Homo sapiens: one gene and its partner. The protein of the gene in region 1 interacts with the protein of each later gene in a pairwise test. Each region holds a gene or a part of one and is shown on either strand. Other genes may lie near its edges. The genes, in order: TMA16 and KLHL2.

Region 1 (12,667 bases):
GATTGACAGATTTGCCTGGGGGTGAGGGTGGGGGTTGGGGTGAGGACAGGGGCAGTTTCTCAGTGACAGCATGATACCTTCCAAAGGCAAGGGTGCACAGGCGACTTTCCAGAAGGGACATAGAGGAAGATCTGAGGGAGAGTATTTAGAGGGGGTTATGTGTCTAGGTGGTGTCACTCAGCAGCATGGTGGGAGTCTCTGGGCAAAGAACTCTGAGAGAAGCAGTGGCCCCAGCGTTTATCTAATCTATGGGACCTATGGTTAGCAGATGTTGGGTGCAGTTTCTCAGGATGTGCAAAGCAGGCAGGCTGTAAATGGCTAACAATCTGCTTTTGGGGGCTATATTTTAAAACAACTGGATGTGTAGAAATTTAAGTTTGGCCGTAGCCGGCTTTTGAGTTAAGAAGTCCCAGGCTGCTGTGAAGAAGTAAACAACACAGGGCCAGGGGCCATTTTAACTCATTTTTGTAACAACTAGCTCCTTATTGAAAGGCACTTTATGATTTTTCCCAAGCCAAAAAGAAAAGAAGAGTCACAAACAGGTCAAAAGAAAAATTACTAATTTATATATGACAAAAGTCTAATTTTATAAGTATAATCAGGACTCCTAGAAATAAGAAAAATGATAAATTAGCACAGCTGTCTCCAAAATCAACCTTGAAAACTACAGAAACAGGAAGAAATTGGCTGTTGGAAGTAAATGAAGACTGTGAGAAACCCCTGGGAAGAAGGGAACTAGTGACTAGAAGGGAGGGAGGCAGCCGAAGAGCACAGCAGTCACATGGGGAGGAGGATGTCCCTGGAAGCTTGGGAGGCTCTGGGGAGGTCATATATAATCTTAGCTCTTGTCTCCCGTACTTCACCTGGGAAGCTTTGCTGCCCTCCCAGTGTTGTGAAGCACTACCAGAGGAGCACAAGGCCAGGCTAATAAGGAGCTGATAGAAATAGGACTAGGATGAATTGTACCCTGGAATGTTCAGGCCTCCAACTCCTGTCAGCAGAGGTTATTGGTCCCTGGAGCTCTCTCCTCTGAAACTTAACCCTTCTGCTTTCCTCAAATTCTCAAAAAAGGATTCAGTTGAGAATGTGTCTTTGAGCACTTCCCTAATAGACAACACAGAGCAGTATAGCTGATTTCATCAGTAAATTAATGTGATGCTACAGGTTCAAAGAAACTAGGTACCTATATTAGTCCATTTTCACACTGCTATAAAGATACTACCGGAAACTGGGTAATTTATAAACAAAAGAAGTTTAATTGACTCACACTTCCGCATGGCTGAAGAAGCCTCAGGAAATTTATGATCATGGCAGAAGGTGAAGGGAAGCAAGGCACATCTGACATGGTGGCAGGAGAGAGAGACAGCAAGCATAGGAAATGACAGACACTTATCAAATAACCATGTCTTATGAGAATTCCCTCACTATCACAAGAGCAACATAGGGGAAACTGCCCCCACGATCCAATCACCTCCCACCAGGTCCCTCCCTTAACATGTGGGGATTACAATTTGAGATTAGATTTGGGTGGGGACACAGAGCCAAATGATAACATTCCACTGCTGGCCCCTCCCAAATCTCATGTTATTTTCACATTTCAAAACCAATTATGCTTTCCAAACAGTTCCCTGAAGTCTTAACTGATTCCAGCATAATCTCAAAAATCCAAGTCCAAAGTCTCATCTGAGACTAAGCAAGTCCCTTCCACCTACGAGCATGTAAAATCAAAAGCAAGTTAGTTACATCCAATATAAAGTGGGGGTACAGGCATTGGGTAAATGTTCTCATTCCAAATGGGAGAAATTGGCCAAAATAAAGAGGCTACAGGCCCCTTGCAAGTCTGATATTCCGATACCCAGCTGGGCAGTCATTAAATCTTAAAGCTCCAAAATCTCCTTTGAATATAGAGATGGAAAATACAAAACATAAATACAAAATATAAAACATGATGCAAGGCAGTGTACAGCTTCTGTGGCTGCTTTCACAAACTGGTGTTGAGTGCCTGCAGCTTTTCCAGGAGCACAGTGCAAGCTGTCAGTGGATCTACCTTTCTGGTGTCTGGTGGATGGTGACCCTCTTCTCACAGCATCACTAGGCAGTGCCCCAGTGGGGAATCTGTGTGGGGGCTCCAACTCCATATTTCCCTTCTGCATTGCTCTAGCAGAGGTTCTCCATGAGGGTTCTGCCCCTGCAGCAGACTTCTGCCTGGACATCTAGGCATTTCCACACATCCTCTGAAATCTAGGCAGAGGTTCCCAAACCTTAACTCTTGTCTTCTGAGTACCCACAGACCCAACACCACATGGAAGCTGCCAAAGCTAAGGGCTTGCACCCTCTAAAGCAATGGCCCAAACTCTACCTTGGCCCCTTTTAGCCATGGCTACAACTGAAGCAGCTGAGATGCAGGGCAGCATGTCCTGAAGCTGCACAGAGCAGAGGAGTCCTGGGCCAGGCACACAAAGCCATTTTTCCCTCCTCACCCTCTGGGCCTGTGATGGGAGGGGCTGCAATGAATTTTCTGACATGTTCTGGAGACATTTTCCCCATTGTCTTGGCTATTAAAACATTCAGCTTCTAGTTACTTATGCAAATTTCTGCAGCTGGCTTGAATTCCTCCCCAGAAAATGAGTTTTTCTTTTCTACCACATGGGCAGGCTGCAAATTTTCCAAACCTTTATACTCTGTTTCACTTTTAAACATAAGTTCCAATTTCAAACCATCTCTTTGTGAATGCGTATAACTGAATGCTTTTCAGAATAAGCCAGGTCACCTCTTGAATGCTTTGCTGTTTAGAAACTTCTTCCATCAAATACCCTATATCATCTCTCTCAAGTTCAAAGTTCCACAGATCTCTAGGGCAGGGGCAAAATGCTACTAGTATCTTTGCTAAAGCATAGCAAGGGTGACCTTTGCTTCAGTTCCCAATAAGTTCCTCATCTCCTTCTGAGACCACTTCAGCCTGGACTTCATTGTCCATATTACTATCAGTATTTTGGTCAACAAGCCTCTAGGAAGTTCCAAACTTTCCCTCATCTTTCTGTCTTCTTCTGAGCCCTCCAAACTGTTCCAACCTCTGCTGGTTACCCAGTTCCAAAGTCGCTTCCACATTCTCAGGTATCTTATAGAAATGCCCCACTACCTTGGTATCAGTTCTCTGTATTAGTCTGTTCTCATACTGCTATAAAGATACTACCTGAGACTGGGTAATTTATAAACAAAAGAGGTTTAATTGACTCACACTTCCACAGGCTATACAGGAGGCATATAGGGAGCCCTATATGCCATATATGCCAAGGAAACTTGGCAGAAGGCAAAGGAGAAGCAAGGCACTTCTTACATGGTGGCAAGAAAGAGAGCAGGGGAAATGCTGGACACTTATCAAACAACCAGATCTCATGAGAACTTCCTCACTATCACAAGAACAGGATGGGGGAACTGCCCCCGTGATCCAATCACCTCCCACCAAGTCCCTCCCTTGACATGTGGGGACTACAATTCAAGACGATATTTGGGTGGGGACACAGAGCCAAACTATATCAGTACCTGAGGAGAACTTATAATAAAAGAAACTTGAAGCACACTGAATAACACATACCACATGAAGCAGATTTATTGGAAGAGATGGACCAATAAGCAAGCACCATATATATCTGCAAGAGTTAAGGAAGGATATTGATGATAGAACAAAGAAATAAGAAATTACTTTTAAAAATTGTAAATATTTATTTTAAAAATGAGATAGTTAAAATGAAGATGACAATAGGTGGGATATACAGCAAGATGATTACATCAAATAAGAAAATAGTAAATCAGGGCCAGGCGTGGTGGCTCACGCCTGTAATCCCAGCACTTTGGGAGGCTGAGGTGGGCAGATCATGAGGTCAGGAGATTGAGACCGTCCTGGCCAACACGGTGAAACCCCATCTCTACTAAAAAATACAAAAAATTAGCCGGGCATGGTGGCGGGTGCCTGTAGTCCCAGCTACTCGGGAGGCTGAGGCAGGAGAATGGTGTGAACCCGGGAGGTGGAGCTTGTAGTGAGCCAAGATCGCACCGCTGCACTCCAGCCTGGGCAACAGAGCGAGACTCCGTCTCAAAAAAACAAAAAACAAAAAACAAAAACAAAAAAAACAGAAAATAGTAAATCGGAAGATCAATAGAAACTCTCCCTAGGGCAGCAGAAATAAATAAAGAGATGGAAAATACAAAACATAAAAATGAAAAGGGGGCAATAAAAGTTAGGGAGGATAGTATTATCAATGCCCAGATAGTATAAATTCCAAAAGCAAATTGAAAGAGGCCACAGATTACCAAAGATGTATGTAACAAAATACCAATACCTAGAAACATAAAGTAAAATTGAAGAAGAGCAAAGACAGCAGATATTATTAAACAATTCCGCAAAGCTAAACCACTCACAAAGGAATGAAATTTAAGATGCAACTTCACAATAGGAATATTGGACTCACATTCTCCAAGAGAATATGAACTAATATATTTGTGGTTAAAAAAATTTAACATATTGCATTGTGAAGTGTGGCATATAAACATAAAAGTGCACAAAATGGAAACGTGAAAAAGAAAGAGTAATTATAAAGCAAACACCAAGGTAACCACCACAGAGGTGAAGAATATTGCTGGCCACCTATAAAAGTATCTGTAAAAAATGTAATCCATTTTGCCTGATTTTAAATTTTATATAAATGGGATTATACTGTATATATTTTTTTGTGCACTGCTTCCTTTACATTATGATAAAAATTTATCCAACTGGTTTAGTGTACTTGTCCTTTGTTCATTTCATTGCTATCTAAAATTTACCACACAACACTGTTATTACAAATAACACTACTGCTATTCTTGTATATGTACCCTGAGAGAAATGTGCCAGAGTTAGTCTATGGTATATACCCAGGAATGACACTGCTGCCTTAGAAAATGTACACATTTTAACTTTTAGGTAATGCCTAACTGTTTTCCAAAATTGTTAAACAAAAGTTGGCTCTTTGAAGTCAGGAATAAGACAATGTTGCCTGCCCTCTCTCCCTCCTTGTCTCCCTCTCTCCCTCCCTCCCTTCCTTCCTTCCTTTTCTTCTCTTTCTCCTTTCTTTCTTTTTCTTTCTGCTTTCTGTCCCTTCTCTCCGTCTCTTCTTTCTTTCTTTTGAGATGGAGTCACTCTGTTACCCAGGTTGGAGTGCAGTGGCAGGATCTCCACTCACTGCAACCTCCACCTCCCAGGTTCAAGCAATCCTCCCACCTCAGCCTCCCAAGTAGCTGGGGTTACAAGCATGCAGCACCATGCCTAGCTGATTTTTGTATTTTCAGTAGAGACAGGGTTTCACCATGATGGCCAGGCTGGTCTCACACTCCGAACTCCTGACCTCAAGTGATCTGCCTACCTTGGCCTCCCAAAGTGCTGGGATTACAGACGTGAGCCACTGCACCTGGGTGTATTTTACAAAAATCTAGGCCTGTAATTTTAACATAGGAAAATATTTTATTATTCTTAAAAAATTTAAAAAAAAACACCTTTGGCTCTCCCGGTCCTCAATTACGTAGGTTTTTGTCCTTGTTTCAATAGTTTATGCTTTTTATTCTATTCTACCTCCTTTTTTGACCTTATTTTGTTGGTTTTTTTTTTTCCCTAACCTCTTGACATATGGATGGCTAGTTCTTAATGTTCAGTCTTTCTTCTTTTCTAATATTTATACTGAAGCCTCTAATATTTACATGAATGGAGCTAATTATTACTTCAGGTGCATCCCACTAGTTTGGATATTTATTGTTTTTGTTATTGTTCAGCCCAAACTATTTTCTAATTCTCATTATGACTTCTTTAGTTCCTGACTTATTTCAAAGCACAATTTTTAAATTTCTCAATATATGACAATTCTCTAGTTGTCTCCTTGTTATTGGTTTCTAGTTTAATTATGAGGTGGTCAGAGAACATATTCTATAGATTTAAATCCTTTCAGATTTGTTTAGACTTGCTTTCTGACCTAATGTGTGATCAATGTTGTTAACTATACCATACGTATTTAAGAACACACGTATTCTTGTAAGAACTGGAAGCACTATTCTGTGTAGATTTGTTAGGTCAAATTTTGTTGTGGTCAAGTCTTCTCAGTCATTGGTGATTGTTTATCTGTTTGTTCTATTATTTACTGAAAAATGGCATGCTAAAATTTCCACCAAGGCTGTTGGTTTTTCAACTTGAAACTGCATCGGCTTTTCCATTATATATTTTGGGGCTGTGTTACTAGATGCACATGAATTTAAAATGGAAACTTTTTATCATTATGAAGTGATCTTTTATATATACCATATTACTTTTTGACCTAAAGTCTATTTCGTATAACATTGATATATGTATACCAGGATTGTTTCAGTTAGCATTCACCTAGCATAACTCTTTCCATTTATTTTTCTATTTTCGTGTACCTTAGATGTGTCTTATAAACAGGATACAGTTGGATGTTTTCAATACAATCTGACTTTTTTTTAGTTGGGGGCAGTTATTTCGTAATTACTGTTTTATGGATTTAAATCTACTGCCATATTTTTTTTTGTTTTCCTGTCTTATGTTTCATGTTTTCTCCTTTATTTTCTTAGTTGGAATTACCTGAGTATATTTTAATCATTCCATTTATTTTATTTTCTCTACTTGTGTGTAGCCTGTACAAAGTTAGGTACCCTGTTTCTATTCTTTTAGTTGTGACACTAGAATTATGCATTTGTACTTATTGTATCAATACCTAATGTTAATCAATACTTAATCCTCACACATACATACAACACACACATACACACACATCTGAGTATATTTGTTAAAGTACAGGAAAATATCTCTAAAGATGTCTCCAAATCATCTACAGTGGTTATTGCACGGGGCAAAGGGGAGGTTGAATTGGGAGGGGAAAAGTTGGGGGATTCATTTTGCTTATCACAGTGGTGCATACATATATTAAACAATGACAAAACATTAGCCATCATTATTATCTTTATTCTTGCTCTGTATAATTCATGTTTGTATTTGCTACAGTGTATTTTGAACATATACAGTATATTTTTAACATGTCTATAATCAATGTTATTTAGGGGTTGAATCTGAATGAGGAAAATATGAAGATTTATTTCTAAAACTCAACTAAAAATAAAAAATAAAAGTTTCAAGATATATGGTTTATTGAGTTGTTGGCAATTTGAAGTTTAGGAATGGGTTAGGAGTAGGTAGGAATTTTATGATCAATAGAGCAATCAGTAACAGCTAAAATAGCCAGAAGGAAAATTTAATAATTAAAAGATTTGCAGTAACATAGAACTTAGGAGGGTGATCTCCACAGGGCCAGACTTAGGGAATGGGGTAGGGTGGGTGAAAGATGGCTTCACAGGAAGTGGCTAAAGTATGGAGCTAGGGTGTAAATATTCTAGATTAATTGGAGTCTTTCACAGAGTACCGTCATGTGCATGTAACAATGTTTTGGTCATGGACTGCATTACAATGGTGATCCCATGAGATTATATTTTTACTGTACATTTCTTATGTTTAGATACACAAGTACTTACCATTGTGTTACAATTGCCTACAGTATTCAGTAGAGTAACATGCTGTACAGGTTTGTGGCCTAGGAGCAATGGGCTATACCATACAGCTTAGGTGGGTAGTAAGCTATACCATGCAGGCTTGTGTAAGTGTGCTCTATGATATTCACATGACAAAAAACAAACAACAAAACCCCCATTGAAATATTTCTCAGAAAGTATCCCCGTCCTTAAGTGATGCATGAATGTGCTGCCTCCACAGTATATATTCAAAGGTGACCTTCATTGCATAGATTCACACACAAAAAAAGCCATGTGAAAATACCTTGCCCCTAGATTCAGGAATCTTCTGGACACACTCTTGTTTACAATTTAAATTATTTCCAAAAATTGATATATCTGTCGATTAAATACAAGTATTTGTGCGGCAGGAGAATAGGGTCTGGAAGCAGGGAAGCTAGGACTGATTTGTGCTGATGGGATATCAGTTGAAAGACTACTCCCCTTCAACCCCTCCTTTTTCTGCATGGCAGTTGCTGCCTGGCAGTTGCAAGCCCTTCTTTTTCTGTGTGGCAGTTGAAAAATGAAAGTGCCTCAGATTGGTCCCCTTCCTCAACCAATCAGACTTGTGGAAGACCAATGGGAAACCTCTAGAAGGTATTTAAACCCCAGAAAATTCTGCAACCTGTGCTTTTGAGCAGCTTGCCACAGCCTGCTTCCACGCAGTGGAGTAGTGTACTTTCATTTAAAATAAATCTCTGCTTTCGCTGCCTTGCTTTATTTGTGTGTTTTGTCCAATTATTTGTTCAAAACGCCAAGGACCTAGCCAACTACCCTCAACTGTTAACAGCTGCACACACATATCAAGGCACACCAGCTTCACCCTGCCTGGAGCTTCTTCCCATGCCTAGTTTTCTCTTACAATTCCGGTCTCTGCTCAATTATCACTTCTAAAAGAGGACTTTATAGAGACCACCATGTGTAAAACAGCTTTTCTACATGCCCCCGCCAGCTAATTTTTATTAGAGTACTTATATTATTTGAAATAATATTTTTACATGCCTCCATCCCCTGGAAAATGAGCTGAGTGAGGGATATTGTTGGAGTATCCCCAGTACCAGGCACACAGTAGGCATTCAATAAATAGTTTTTGAATGATTACATTGTCTACGGAATTCTAACATGTATGGGTGAAACAAAGACTCTCACATGCTGTGAGAAGAAAACAAAAACTGGGTTGGCAGAGGCCTTGAATATGAGGAAGTGGCCTTTCCGGATAAAGAAACTAAGACTCGGCCGGGCGTGGTGGCTCAGGCCTGTAATCTCAGCACTTTGGGAGGCCGAGGCGGACGGATCACCTGAGATCAGGAGTTCGAGACCAGCCTGGCCAACACGGCGAAACCCCGTCTCTACTAAAAATACAAAAAAAAAAAAAAAAAAAAAAAATTAGCCGGGCGTGGTGGCGGAGGCCTGTAATTCCAGCTGTTCGGGAGGCTGAGGCAGGAGAATCGCTTGAACCCGGGAGGAAGAAAGAAAGAGGGAATGAGGGAAGGCGGGAAAGAGGGAAAGAAGAAAAGAAAAGAAAGGAAAGAGAAGAGGGGCGGGGCGGGGCAGGGCAGGGCAGGGCAGGGCAGGGCAAAAAAAGACTCAGTGCAGGAAAGGACTTGCCCAAGGTAATCTAGTACGTGGAAAAGCGGAGGGCAGGAGCCTGTGCCGTGCAAGAGCTCCGGGGAGCCAACACCGAGCGGCCCTTTTGAGAGGGTCCCAGCCCCTGAGATGCGGGAGCCCGCAAGAGGGAACCTCTTGTCTGAAGAGGTTGCTGCGCTCTGGAGTCGTGCTCTGGGACAGATGGGCAAGCTCCGCTCTTGGGGCCGGAAGCGTGTAGCGTCTCCACCCGGGCTCCAATCCCCAGCCTCGCACTCAGCACCAGGCAGAGTTCAGCCTCCCGCCGCAAGCTCCCTTCCGCCGCTCCCGGCGAGCACGCAGGTCTGGCTGTCCGTTGGGCTAGAGCTTAAAAGCCCAACACGGGCGAAAAAGACGCGGTCTCAGTTAACGGGGACGCTTTAGAGAAACGCACTCGCCTCTCCTGTTCCGGTTGGGTCGGCGCGGGCTTCTCAGGCGCCACGTGGGATTCGGCCCGGGTGCTCTTGTGAGCTGCTGCTCCTGCGGTTGGTGAGATTACCTGGGTCTAGAGTGCGGAGCTGCTCCGTGGCCACGAGGACGTCACCATGGTGGGCCCCCTCCTGCTCCCCCGAACCGCTCGGTTGGTTCCCCGGAAGGCTCTTGTTGAGCAGGCAGAGAGGGAGGGTGCGGTTTCGGGAACCTAGGAGAGGGGAGGATGCAAAGTGTTTATTTTCAGGGAGTGTGCGGGGTGCGGGGCGAAGCCTCTGGGAGGCGAGTCCCAGGCCCAACGCCTGGACCTTAGAGTTCCGCGTCCGAGTGCTGAAGTGCTCACACGTCGCCTTGCTCCTCTTTGCCTTGTGCCTAACTTCTCGCTAGTCACTACTTCCTGGGGGAAACCCGGCACCTTTCCATTGTAACGCATCGAGGAGTTTGGCAAAACTTCTGAGATCGCTGGCCCTACACACCTCTGCCTCTCTGGCCTGGGTAGACTCAGTATGTGGGCTTAGTCGCCTCTTCCTCGGCGTCCGTTCACCTCTCGTTAGTGCCCTGAATCCTGCCGTTACGCCCCCATTCGCTCCAGGGCACTGAAGCAGTTTTGTTGTTTTTATTAAAAACTGAGTAGATACAAAAGAGTGTTACTAAAGCACATTTCAAGTGTAAAGATGAACAGTTTCAGGAATTCTCGTTTACCCATTTTGTAGTTTTAAGAAATAAAACATAGCCTTTGAAAGCCCTGTGTTACCTTCTTTGAACTTTCAGGAAACCTTAAGAAGCAAACATTATCTAAGTTTTGTATTTATAATTTCACTACTTTTCTTTATAGTTACTACATATATTTGTATTTTGAAACAGTATGTTGTTTCTTGCCTATTTTTTACGTAATCGTTGTGTTCTTGAGAGTAATTCTTGCATAGAAACATGCTTTATAAATTTTTTTCAATTAATTTTTAATAAAAGCAAAATTTTAAAAGTTTATAATCTGGTCAGAAGTTACGATATTGTGTCCACAATGTGGCCTCTTTGTTTCTTTTCATTTTTTTCTCTTTTCATTGTATGCCATTTTTGTCTTACAGTCTGGTTCTTTCGTTGTTTCGCGAGTTTTTTGTGCTTTATTTTGATCCACTGCTGACGCATATTTTGTACTTTAGATTGTACACATTTGTGTAAATTCAGTGTTTGCTTGTCACTTTGCTTGTGGGATTTCCAACTCTTTATAGTGTTAGTTTTTTTCCCCTTTTCAGAGTGGAATATGAAAGCAATTACATCTCATTGTGTTTGAGTGATTGGGGAGATAGATTGGTATTTGACTGTAGTTGTCCTTGACTATCAGAGCTTCACTTTTTATCAGGCTGTATAGTAGAAGTACGTTGCTTTGGCATAGAAGTCAAAAGAGTGGCATATGAACCTGTTTTCATTGGCTCATTTCTGGCTCTGTCATTTTTTTTTGATATAACCTCATTAGTGGTTTTGCTGCATCCTCTTTCAGTACAGCTCAGAATGTGGTCCCAAAGGACAGAGTTGGGCACCTGTCTTTCCCTGAGTTGCCATCTTGGCAAAATTACTTAACCTCCCATCTGTTTAATTGGGATAACAATAGTACCTACCTCATAGAATTGTGGAAATTAAATGTAAAGTGCTTAGTCTAGTGCCTGGCACTTAGTAAATGTTATTGTTATTAACTTTAGTTATATAAATAGTAACAGTGTACAGCTTATAGTTGTTCATCCTTGTTACTTTGCTCATTAATGTTCTCTTATTGTAAATCTTTGCTGGAGCTTAGCAAGTTCATATCTTTATATCAAAATTTAGTTTACCTGTTATATATAAATAATCTTTTCAAATTAATCCATTCCACTCAACACTTCTTTATGCTGCATTAAAAAGGTTTTTAGTGTTTATTATTTTTTATTTTTTTTTGAGACGGTGTTTTGCTCTTGTTGCCCAGGGTGGAGTCCAGTGGCATGATCGCGGCTCATTGCAACCTCCGCCTCCTGGATTCAAGTGATTCTCCTGCCTCAGCCTCCCGAGTAGCTGGGGTTACAGGTGCCAGCCACCACACCCAGCTAATTTTTGTATGTTTAGTAGAGACAGGGTTTCACCACATTGGCCAGGCTGGTCTCGAACCCCTGACCTCAAATGAGACAGGGTTTCACCACACTGGCCAGGCTGGTCTCGAACTCCTGACCTCAAATGATCCACCCGCCTTGGCCTCCCAAAGTGCTGTGATTACAAGTGTGGGCCACCGTGCCCAGCCAGGATTTTAGTATTTTTAAGTATGGCTCATACAATACTACTAGGCACCCATGGGTATACTCCTTTTTATATAAACCTGTCATAGAGCTTGTGTGTGCTTCTTTCCCTCCCTAGCTAGACTATATACCATTGAAAAGTGTGCCATCATCCTCCGTGCATTTATCCATGCACATTACTGTGGGGCATTAGCTGTTACTGACTACCTTAATGGTAGAGATTGTGTGTTTTGGGGACTACATCTATAAATGTGAGCCACAACAACAAATCAGCTTAATACATCTCATAGAGATTATCTGTTAGTGAAAACTTGCTCCTGAAAGTTAGTAAAACTAAAGAAAAACATTAATGGAAATCTACCTAGTATACCAATCTTTTTGAGACAATATTACTTGTACATGGTTTAAAACACTAAAAAATGGTTTCTCATAAAAATTGTATTAGTTTCTTATTAACTGCCATAGTAAAGTGATATGCATTTAGTGGCTTAAAGCAACACATTCATTTCCTGAAACCTCTGGAGGTCAGAAGTTCAAAAATGAGTCTTAACTGAGATAAAATTAAGGTGTTTGTCAGGGCTGTCTTTCTTTAAGGGGCTCTAATGAATTTTTCTGTTTCTAGAGGTCATCTACATTCTTTGGCTCCTTCCCTCTTCAAATCCAGCAGCATGGCATCTTTAAATTTTCCCCCAGAGAAGGTTACATTTTCTCTGACAGTGATCCTCCTGCCTTCCTCTTACATGGACCTTTAG
Region 2 (12,068 bases), 1.7 Mb from region 1:
CCAAGTTCCGTCAAAGATCAACACAGAATATTCAGCAGAAGTGGCTTAGCAGATATCTCCAAATAAAACTGTTGAGAAATGATCTTCTCCATTGGAAATTAACTTGCTTTTACAAACTTCTATAGTCATACGTTATTAACAAACCAAGACAGAGCAGGATCATATTTTACACAAACTTCAGAAACTTAGAATCTGATTTAAATTTTGCTCTCTACCTGCCAGGATATATTAACCCCATATATTTTGACCTATACTAACAAGAGATTAATCGAGATTAATCATGTTAGTTAATAGTTATTGAGTATTTACCATATGGCAGCCCTGTGCTGAGTAGTTTACTTTCATTATTTGGTTAATCCTCACAACAACTCTCTGAGCAAATTACTATTATTATCCCCATTTAACAGATGAAGAGAATAGTTTGAGTAACGGGGTAAATGGTAGGGCTGGGTAAGAGTATGGCCAGTCTGATTCTCCATCTTGTTCTTTTCACTAATATTTCAATACCATTTCCTACACTGAACAGTGAATATTTAAATTTACATTTTTTAAGCACACAAGGCTATACTAGCATTGCTACATGAATTATTCTTTCAAGACTTAGGACATAAAATTAACCAAAAAAATCAGGGTCCCATGAGGAGGGGGGCAAGAATTAACTGCAAATTAATGAACACAAGACAACTTTTTGAAGCAATGGTTATAAAACTTTATAAATTTAATAAAAATCATTAGATTGCACAATTATAATGGGTGGATTTATGGTATGTAAATTATACCTCAATAAAGCTATTACATAAAAAATCAGGGCACCAATTTTTTAACTAGGCTTAAAAAATGAAGTCTAAAAATATCATACTTGTATATATATCAAAGAACAAGCAAACATCATTATTAATTGCTGCACTTCTCTTCCTTTCCTGACCCATTTCTAAAAGGATGATTCATTTTTAAACATTATCGTTCATTAATTCATTCAGCAATTGTTTTTAGTACCAACCATGTACCAATCACTACTCTTAAGGCACTTGGAATATATCAGTGAATAAAACAAAGATCCCTGTCCTCATAGAGCTTGGAGTCTGGTGGGGGGAAAGGGAAAGACAGCACAAGTCAGGGAAGCAACTGGCATGTTGGGAAATGGTGTTATGGAAGTAGAAAAAGCAGGGCAGCGTGAAGAGAGAGAGAAATGTGGGGACGGTGGAGGGGTGTAATCTGCAGTAAATAGGGTGCTCAGGGAAGGCCTAGTTGAGAACTGAGATTTGAACAAAAGACTAGGGGGTGTGGGAACATCCGGATGGAAGTAGTAACTACAGCAAAGGCCAATATGTACCTGGTATGTTCCAGGAACTGTGACCCATGCAGCTTTGGCAAAAGGCTGGGGCTGAGCAGGAGAGGGGAGTGCAGATCACAAAGGGCCTTTTAGGATATCCTAAGGCCTTTCACTTTGAGTGAAATGAGGAGACACTGCAAAAGAGTGATACAATCCGACTTACGTTTTCCAAAGACCACTTTGGCTGCTGGTTGAGAACACTCTACACGGGTCAAAGATGAAAAGGGGGCAACTATTTAGCAGGATATTACAATAATTCACTAAAAAATGACAGTGGCTTAGGGAGGACAGTCGCAGTGGAGGTGATGAAAACTGGCTGGGTTCTGGACATTTTGAAGATACAGCCAACGAGATCTGTTGAAACAACCATATGACATGTCAAAGAAAGTCAGAATGACTCCAAGTCTTTTGGCCTGAACAAGAGAAAGGACTGAGTTTCTGTTCATTGAGATGAAGAAGGCTGCAGGTGGAAACTGTTTGAGATAGGCAGAGATCAAGAGCTGTTTTTATACCTAATGGTTTTAAAACATCAGACATCCAAGTGAAGGCATCAAATCACCAGATAAATATTGGAGTCTAGAGCTGGAGAGAAAAGTTTAGCTGGAGTCAGAAATGTGGGAATCACTGGTTACATGGATGGTACACGAAGCCATGAAACAGGTACTCAACATGAATATAACCTCTAAAATTAAGCAAACCCCAAACCCCAGAATCAGCACTAGTTGAAGCACCTGACTCTCTGAGGGCTTGCCTACTACAAGTGCACATCAGTTCTACTTCCTCACCGCTTGAGAGTTTTTAAGGGGCCTAACAAATGAATTAGCGCAAGGCTTTACCTCCACAGGGAAAGCCTACAGCTGAAGTGGGAGAATAAGGAGGTGCCACTCTACTCCCTATGCCCTCTTGAAGGTGTGTGTGTAGGGAATTAGTTACACCCAGTCTAAGAAAGGAAAAGCACTGATAAGTCTAGAAGCCAAAAAGATGGCAGAACATTCACGTCTGGAGGGAGAGAACTGGAGAAACACTTTATAGTATAAGACAGATATTCTCATTCTACCTGTAAAGGAAACAGTAAGAAACCAGGGAAAGGGGAAAATGCGTAGATATATGCAACCCATGCAAACTTTCTAACCATGTAACACTGCATGTCTATATACGATAGCAAGGTAATACTTATTCTATATTTGCTTCTAGTTTAATAATTTAGAAGGTGCAACAAAGGAAGAATGTTATACTGAGGATTAGCAAAACTATCATAAAAGAATTTTCAATGCTTGAAAGTGGAAGCAAAAGCAACTCTGCCCCAGAAAGAATGTCATGATTTAAGAGTCAGGAGTGTTTATATTTGCTTAAGAACTTAGGAATTAAAATTCCCTGCATTGGAGAATTCACTTTAAGACAGTTGCCATACAACAATCAATGCCCACATTGGTGCTCTCTTAAACCTATTTTCAGCTCCTCCTTTTTCTGATGTACTACAGAAACCCTGCAAAGAAGACTTTATTCAAAGGCTTAAAGGAATAAGTAAGAAAAAACACTGAATTTTGTTAAGTGTTCTCTGTACCGAGAGTCACTTACAAATACATCACCCCTTCTGCAAACGTCCATTTTCAAAACGAATGCCCTTTCCATAAATTTCCATTCCCTGTGTGGCTTTGTGTTAGATGGCTTCTCATTCAGAAGCAGAACAGAAAATGATGCATAATGTCTAAAACTATAGATGTGAGACATATATACATATACATACTAGGAATAACTAGTTAAGTGAGAGGTAAAGGTTTACCCTTTAGGTTGTACCACATTAAATGAAGAATTACACCTTTGCCCTGCTTCTCTTCTGAAGCAAAGTGCTAGCCTTTTCCAGAAAAGCTTCTCATTCTGAGAACTGTCTCCCTTAAAATACCTGAAGAAGATATTTTTCCAAGTTCCTTTCACCTTTAAGTCTTTATGCAACTCTTAGACTCCTCAAGTAGTCTGGCAATTATCCAATAGCCTATTGTTATCAACACATACTCTAAAATAGTTGAGGTTTCCCAGGGTTTGGATCCCAGTGTACTGCTATGTTTTATCATAGATATCCTAAAGCCTTCCTTCAGTGACTGACTTCTGCAAATTCCCAGCTGTGGACACAGGTGGCTTCTCAGATGAGGTGACTTTCTGACTCTGCCTAAGAATACACTATTGATGATAACTGAATTCTCAGACAGGAAGAAAACAAAGACTCTAACAGGGCTGTCTCTCTCAAATAGTCAAGATTTCCAAACCAGGCAAAGGTTTAAACCTGCTGTAACAATTCTGAGAACACCACAGAAATGAAGTAAAACTTCTTTAGATATTTATTATTGGCTTTGAAACAATGGTTTTCAGCAGCGTGAAAGAGAAAGATCAGAATCACCCAAGCAATTTTTTCAAGCCACAAATAACCACCCCTTCTCACATGAAGAGTCACACAAGCCCTTTTTAGAATTAGCTATACATACATGATGGCATCTCCAGGAGTATAGGAGAAAGCCAGCAATGCGTGATTTTTAAAAATAATAATAATAACAAAAGTCATGTAATATGTCCTGCCACCAACTTACCTCCCACCTCAGAATCATCCCAGATTAAAAACAAATGCTTTAGAAAATATGTTGTATTTTTAGAAAAAAAAAATGCAACCATTCATGTGAATGATGCAGCTGCAAAGTTTAACAGGAGATCAAAGACATTTTGACATTTAGGACATAAATACTTGGCCCTTGGGTGGCCACCATCACTGTTCTCCCCTTTGCCTGTTCACCTCAAAAGCTGCAAGACTCCCCTGCTTGCAATGAGTCACCCACCATTACTCACAAATTTCTGCCAAGTTCACGTCAGCAGCTGTTGTTTTCAAAGTCAACATCCATGCTGTAATGTTTTGAGGTTTCTCCATTACTTTATAATATTTCTTCTATTTCTCTGCTGTCTTCCCAGCCAAACTTGCATTCAGAAGCAGGCATCTTACTAGCATTGCTCTCATAAACAAATCCAGGATATCAGAAGTACAGAGTCAACCATAACTAACATTTTAACTAAAATTTGTTATGTCATTCTACAGTTTCTCAACAAAATACTCTCACATCCTTCAAACAAATAACCACTATATTACTTAGAGGCTGTGAAGGTAGAAGACTTTCTCAGTTGGAAACACGTTTGGGTCTATGGTAGGGTTGTGATTTCAATTTTTGCAGTTAGCTAAGGCAAAGAGACACACTGCAAATTTTCTTCACATGTCTGGAATTTAAACTTTTATTAGGTATGGAAACAGTAGACTAATCTACAAACATATGTTCATATTACCAAATAAATAGAGCTTTTTAAAAATGTTAACATTTGCCCTATAGACATGTAAGAACTTGGATTAGGTCTTCAGTATGTAGAACTGAATATGAGGTATCTTGTGAGATAAAAACTTCTATCTCTTTTTTCTTTGTATTACTTACTTCTCCAAGAAAAAAAAAAAACTTCTGATCTTGCATCAAGTCACAGAATGCCTTTCAGACAATATCATAATGCCATTGAATATTTTAAACATATATAGTTAAAAATTATTTTTCCAATTTTCCAGAGCTGAAAAGGAAACATCTAGAAAAGCTTGAATTGCCAAACTTTACTAAAATATATTAGCAGTTAAAAAGCAGAGCCCTGAACTCACTGAAGGGCAGAGGGAGGTATTAAAGAGCACCCTATTCTCTCTGGAGAACTCAGTTGTGCGGCTGTATGTTAAGTGTGTGGGGAAGCATTGGCAGGAGGAGGAGGTTGGGATGTCTGAGGTGGATGGAAGTTGGAGTATAATTGCTCTCTGATAGTAGAACAATGGAGCTGTAAAAAGCTCTGCTTCAGTTCAACTCAGCTTTCTCTCCCTCTTTCCCTCCCACCTACATGACAAACAGAACACAATCAGGCACTTTTTGTCCCTGACAGTGACTATTACCAGGAAAAGGACCACGGTAAAAGCATGTCTTATGCAAGATCAATCTCCTAAGGAATATTTTATAAATAACTAACAAAGCATTGTCAGAGTGGGATATTTGTGAGGTGCTAAAATAGGGAAAAGGAGGTTGATGATCCATTTCAAACATTTCCATTTATTTTATCACTTATATTTCTGACTTTTCCTTTGCCCCTCTTCCTACTATTGCCATCACTTCGTTGGTAAGGGGGCGGCAATACGACTCCGCAATTCAGTTGACTGGGATACATTTTCCAGCACTGAAATGAAAAGGTACTAGATGAGAACCAGAATCAGAAAGAAGCCCAAAATTGTAGTTCTGTCTATGCCAAATACTAACCAAGAGACCCTGGATTAGTCACTTAGCCTCTCTGGGCTTCAGACTACTTATAAAATTTATTTCACAAATATGTCTGATGTGAAATGTAATATGAAAGTCAAAGATAGTAATATCTCACCTACCTATCTCAGGGAGCTGTATAGGCACTAGGCACTATATGAATGTAAACAAAGTTTAGAAGAAAATTGTTGAATTCAGGATCTAAACTGAATATGCAGATATATTTTTATGGATCTTATTGGCCTTCATTTTTAATTGCAACATTCAATTCAAAGTTAATAGCAATATTCAAAATGACCAAAGCCAATAAATTAAGTATTTAAGTGCTGCCTAGATGCCCACTGCATGCCATGTACTAAGAAGGGTAAGAAACATTAGGAAGGCTGAATTGAGATCTTCCTCCATTTACCATCTAAACAGGAAGGTACATGGGAAACCACTAAGGAATGGCACAAGTCAGTACATAGGTGCAGTGACAAACACCATAGGAATGCAACGATGAGCTGGAATGAGTTGGAGTAAAGAGGAAAGACTTGGTGAAGGAGATGGGGCTCCAATGGGGCCTTGGAGGAACTTCAAGTTGTTGTAACAGGGGAGAGAAGAAGAGAAGCATAGGAAAAGGCTGGAGAATCCTGGCTTGTGGACAAGGGAGAGTTTTAAAAGCACATGATGATCTTGGATATATAGGATAAGATAAAATGATGAAAGGCTGTGACTGCCTGAGTCTCTGGTTTTGATAAGTCACTTCACATGACTCTAAGATGTTGGAGGGTTAAAACAGTGTGGGGACTGAAGGATGAGGAGAGAATACACAGAGCTCAATAGAAGACCAGTGAAAAAGTTCAGGTATCAAGTGATGAAATCCATTCATCAGAATAGTAGCAACCAGAATGGACACTTGAAACCAAGACCACAGTTCCTGGGGACTGATAAGATGTGGAGGATGAAGAAAGAGAGAGAAATCAAAGACTATTCCAATGCTTTGGTTATCAGGGACCAGAAGAATGGTTATCCCATTGAATAAGTGGAAATGTTATAAAATGAAGTCAGTTTGTGAACAAACATCAGTTTTGGATATATTGGGTTTAGAGGCATGAGCTAAGAGTAGAGATGTGAGAAGTTCAAAATTCCACACCAAAGCACAGACCTAGAGCCCCGACTTAAGATATAGATGGAGCTAGAGCTCAATGATTAACAGGTGATTGAAAAGAACTGGCCAAGGCCTACTTCCGTGAGGAAATACTGCCCACAAGCAGTGATAGAAGAGAAGTCATGCAAGACAGAAAAAAGTGATACAACAGAGAGATTAGAATCCCACTTTTTCTAATACTTGATAAGCTTGAGAGAGTAACTTAAACTCTACTTCTTCATCTGATAAATAAGACACCTACCACTATAAGGTTGTTGACAAGACTAAGTGAGATTAAGTGATAAAGTATGCAAATCACATTTAGCAACCTAAAAACCAGAGTAGGAAAACAAGAAAAAGAGCTATCATAAAAAGCAGGGGCTTGTTTTTCAAGGTAAAATCAGAGAATGGAACTGGTCAAAGGAATATTTTAGCAAATGCCAATAGTCTGAAATGTAAGAAAGTACAGTGCGTAACACACAAAAAGTTACGGACCCACTCACTGCAGCAATTATCTCATCAGGGGAAGAATTCAAGAATGCCTTTGTGCTTGCTATTCTCTCTCCCTGGAATGCTATTCCCCCTCTGGATTGTGCTAAAATATCACCTCGTCAAAGACACCCTGACCCTATCTGAACTATTATTCTTATTATTCTCTACCCTTTTATCCTGCTTCATTTTTGTTTACTGTAATACTACTAACAATATTACATATTTGTTTGCTATTAGTTTCAATCATAGGAAAAGGAACTTTGTTTTCTGAGATATCCCCAAAATCTGGCCATAGTAGGCACTCAATAAATATAAATTAAAAACTCAAACTACCTCATCATAAAGAGTAAATGCATTTGGATTTGGTAGAACACTACAGAAATGCAACATAAAGTGAATTTCCTTCTCTGGATCACCTTGAAAAAACCTGCCTGATCTTAAGAAAGAAGTTCAGTGGTCTTCATAAGCACTACTAGTGTAAATCCGTAACAGCCATAGATGAGTAAACTTACAGTCACCTTCAGAAAAGCACATTTACTAATAGTTACTGCATGCCTACCATGTACATCAGAAACAAAAGGTTTGGGGCATTTTGCAGGGAGTAGGTGGAGTGATTTCCCAGCATCAGAAATTTTTTAAACTACTACATAAATGCTACCTATTTCCAGAATTCACTTCTCAAGTTCCCAAATGCACCTCAAAGTTGTCTCTATATGTAACACTTCCTTCAACACACATTGATCCACATGTCTTCTTTCACCATTACCTTGTTTGTGGGCCATTATTACTCCTAAATATTTTAAATGTCTTTGTCTATCACTGGGGAGATTCACCTGTGATATGAGAGATGCCCAATGTACATTTAGTTAAACAAAAATAAGAATACACTCCAATGCACTATAACAGACAAACAAATGAATACTGGGTATCCTGTAGCAAGGTTCCAAATTCACAGCAATTGAATCTTAGAAAGAACATTAAAGGTCATCCGGTCCAGCGGACTGCAAATGTCAGGCTTCAGTGAACTTTTTACTGATCTATGTCAAAATGAGGACAATGTAATAAGTTTTCATAAGGCTAAGTTTTTTAAATTTAAAGACAATCCTTTAGTCAGATTATATTCTTCCTTATATTTGAGGAAGGATACTAAAATGTTTTTTTCTTTCATAAAAAGATGGTGATAGTTGATCATTGTTGTTTCATAAATAATTCTTTTACTTAGCAAAACAAAAAACTTAGCAATTGTTAGACTTCAATTGTTTTTTTCTTTTTTTAATTTTACAGGTCAGTTAAATTCAAAAATGTGAGAACCTCTGCTCTAATCCAACCAATTTTCTGCTGCCTAAATGCCTTAGAACATGGTCAACAAGTTGTTTTTCTGCCTATGCATGACCACCTCTGACGACAAGTCTCTAGTAATGTGGAACCATCAACTGAAAAAAGATATGGTTCTATCTGAGGGATGTTTGCTTAGTTTTGTGAAGGAAAAGCAAAAAAATCAAGGCTTACAGAGAGTAAGCCGACTTGTGAAAATGGAGCCAGTAAAAAAACAAGTGCCAAGAAGACTGATCAGTAAGAGAAGATCAGAGGGATGCACTCAGGCCTATACCTCACAGTCTTCCTTCAACTTATTATGAAAATCCTTTATACAAATAACTATAAAAGCCAGACTGTAAAATACATTCCTGAGGTCAGGGCTGGTCAATTTACATTTCCTTTTGCACATCTCAGTTTACCATCTGAAATTCCTTTACTAATCTACATCTAAACTACATCTCTCAATTTACTACCTGAAATTCCTTTACTAAGCTACATCTTTTAGTTACACATCTTTCAGGTTTGATCAGAAGCAAATGTAACACAGTCTCAATATCACCCAGACCCAGAATGCAACAGAATCTAAATGCCACATATACTCAAGTATGCAAAAAACAATAAGCACAAATATATAGTCCAACGACAATTTTTAATTATATGAGAATTAAAAAGGATGAAAGTTGGAGGCAAGGAATAGAAAAAGCACAAAAGATCAAAAGCTAATTTCAAGGAGTCCATCCTGAAGGAACCAGGAATGGTGGGTACAGATGCCTGACCTCCCTCCAAGACAATGTGCCAACAGGCCAGTGGAGAACAAGGTGGGATCTGAGAACAATGTAAATTTGGATGTTAAAAGAGAACACAAGCAAAAGCACCACGCACAGTGCCAGGCAGAGACAGGCATTCAAATATTTGCACATTGAATGAATTAATAAACAGACACTTACACAAAGAGAATCTGGGGCCGTGCTTCCAACCATACCATAAGGCACTTTAAGTCCAGGTCATCTTTCTTTGACTTAAAGCTCAGGCTAAAAATCTAACTTCATGAAAAGCTGAGTCTTCCTAATAGTTTCCACTGGCCTCTGTTCTAGCCCAGCTCTGGCAGTGAGGCCCGGTAAAGTTCCTTCCTAAAGACACTGCCTGCAAGTCTCAAATCCGGCACACGGGATCCATGGTGGAGGGATGTTAATGGGAGTGGAGGCAAACAGGCCAAGGGGTGGCAAGGAAAAAAACTATTTCTGATCCACAGAATGGCAAATAACACCATAACGAGTTCTTGAATTAGGTTTAATCCTGGACAGAACCAAATGAAAATAAAAACCTACTTGTATTTATAATTAAATAGACAGAAACAATGAAAAAGTCTCACCAACTTTAGCCACCCCTGATTGAAAGGAGTTTTAACAATTCTTTCATCCATGCTGGCATTCCAAGTTTTCCATTATATCTCAGCCTCTCATTGTTCCAGCACTATTGATGGAATCTCAATGCCAAAAATGGCGCTGGTCATCAAAATTATGATTAGCTGATCTACCCTAGAGTCAGTTTATCAATGTTTCAATGCATACATCAATTCTATTTTTTATTATTTCAATTTAAATCATCTGTGTCTCTATTCCCTCCCTCCCTCCAGAGGCTGCTTTCCCACACCCTTCTTTTCACCTGCATTCTAAGTATTCCCTTGTTCTTTCCTTTAGCTCCCTCTGTTCCAAAAGTAAAAACGAACTGCAGGAACTTATGTAGAAGGCAGGTTTACTACAGATAGCATACCTACATGTTACATATTATATACCATATGTTGGCTAAATACAGCTAGCATATCCTGCTTTAAGTGCTTCTGAGCCTGGGCAGACCCCCGTGTGCTCATGCTGCTGATGTGAACCATCCACCATCATATTTCCTAGGGGTTCAGGTGCCTTCCTCCAGCCTGCTGAAGAACATGACCAAATCTCAGAGCCCTCAAAGCCACAGCTATCGAGAGGTGACTAAGCCCCTGCTTCTGTCAGCCCAGGAAGGCCAATTCAAGAGTCTTATCTACCCCCTAGATTTCCACGACCTGTTCCACTCAAGCTAAAAATTCTGAAACGCACTTTTAGAAACTGTCGTTCCAGAATCCCATTAGCTCTCCTAAAAGGGCTGAACATCAAAAAATTATTCAACCCAAGCCAAGTATCCTTATTTTGGCTGGAATTCTGCCAAATAACCACAAGAGACTGGTGCGGTACAATCGGCATGGAGTGAAGCTTGCCAAATTTGACCGGAGAACGACAAGCCTCCATGAATAAGCTCTCATGAAAAGGTAAACCATTCTTCAGGATGAGGTTTGTCTGCGATTTGAAAAGTCAGATTCAAAGGACTCTTGTTCCTTCCTAAGAGAAGAGGGAACCAAAATTGAAATTTTCGAAACTCCTGGGTATTTACAGTTCACTTTTACCAAGATGTTTTTAAAACTAAAAACTAAAATTTAAAAAAAAAACCCTTGTTCTGAATAATGCAATAATGTCTTCTACATAATGTTTCAGCTATTATTTCTAGAAAGTAATTCTGTTGCCAGTGATCTTGAATGTACTTGGGTACCAAAGAAAAAAGACACCTGTGCCTGGCAGGTCGATACGCTACTAATTTGCCCGAGGTACGAACGAAACAGAAGATGCTGATTTCTGGATAAAACGTTCTGCAGTGCCAGGTAAAAGAGGTCACATGCCCTGAACGGCCGCCGCTCATTTAGAGTGATGCAAAAGCTCCTCAGATATTAATTTTGTTAGAAATTCGGGGAATCAAGCAACCTAAGATCAATTCATTTAGACAGCGGGTGACTGGTACTTTCCAGTTTCCTTTTTTCAACGGACTCAGTGCATCCTAGCCTGATCTCTTATAAAGGGGTAGGCAAACTCGGCACCAGGTGCCCATGCATTTCAGGGAGGTACACACAGGACCTGCAGGGTCACCCATGCACAGCCCCACCCCGAATCTTCTATCCGCCCGAGATGGGGAAGACCCTTCCCCAGAAATCCTGGGCAGCGTTTTAAGTCACCGCCTGGCCAGGCTGAGTTTCCGTCCGCGTCCGCTCAGGACTGCGGGCACAGCGCCTCGTCACGCCCCGCATCTCCCACCTCCCGCCGGCCCCGGCGGCTGTCCCCAGAGCTGCGCCCGCGGCCGGCGACACGCGCCGCAGCGGCGCGCTTATCCGCAGCGGCGCAGCCCGCCCGCCCGCTCACTCACGCGGGAGGCAGCGGCGGCGTCTCCATTGTGGCTCCTCTCGGGCTTCAGAACGCAGGCACCGACCAACACAGCCAGCACCATTCCAGCCGCGGACGCCGGCACTGCCCGCCCGCCGAGCCGCGTTCCATCCGCCCCGGAGGGGGCGCCGCGCTCTCCTCACCGCGCGCCACCACCTGCGGCGGCGGCCCCCGCGGCCATGGCCCGCTCGGCCGGGCGCGCTCCGTCTACTGCGCGGCTCCCGCGCTCGCCCGAGTGCGGG

The links.
Region 2: the proteins of TMA16 (region 1) and KLHL2 interact in binary tests that used the Homo sapiens proteins (3 or more experiments, as listed by UniProt).

What each region holds. Positions count from the first base shown.
Region 1 is NC_000004.12:163,485,032-163,497,698, forward strand, and holds the start of TMA16 (translation machinery-associated protein 16), read left to right. Parts: upstream 1-9,658; 5' UTR 9,659-9,770; coding exon 9,771-9,773; exon of another isoform or gene 9,774-9,865; intron 9,866-10,130; exon of another isoform or gene 10,131-10,193; intron 10,194-12,667. UniProt on the Homo sapiens protein: Involved in the biogenesis of the 60S ribosomal subunit in the nucleus.
Region 2 is NC_000004.12:165,207,644-165,219,711, reverse strand, and holds part of KLHL2 (kelch-like protein 2), read right to left. Parts: 5' UTR 11,891-12,068; coding exon of another isoform or gene 11,836-11,890; coding exon 11,810-11,835; intron 9,694-11,809; exon of another isoform or gene 9,570-9,693; coding exon of another isoform or gene 9,532-9,569; intron 1,688-9,531; coding exon of another isoform or gene 1,497-1,687; intron 69-1,496; exon of another isoform or gene 1-68. UniProt on the Homo sapiens protein: Substrate-specific adapter of a BCR (BTB-CUL3-RBX1) E3 ubiquitin ligase complex that mediates the ubiquitination of target proteins, such as NPTXR, WNK1, WNK3 and WNK4, leading most often to their proteasomal degradation.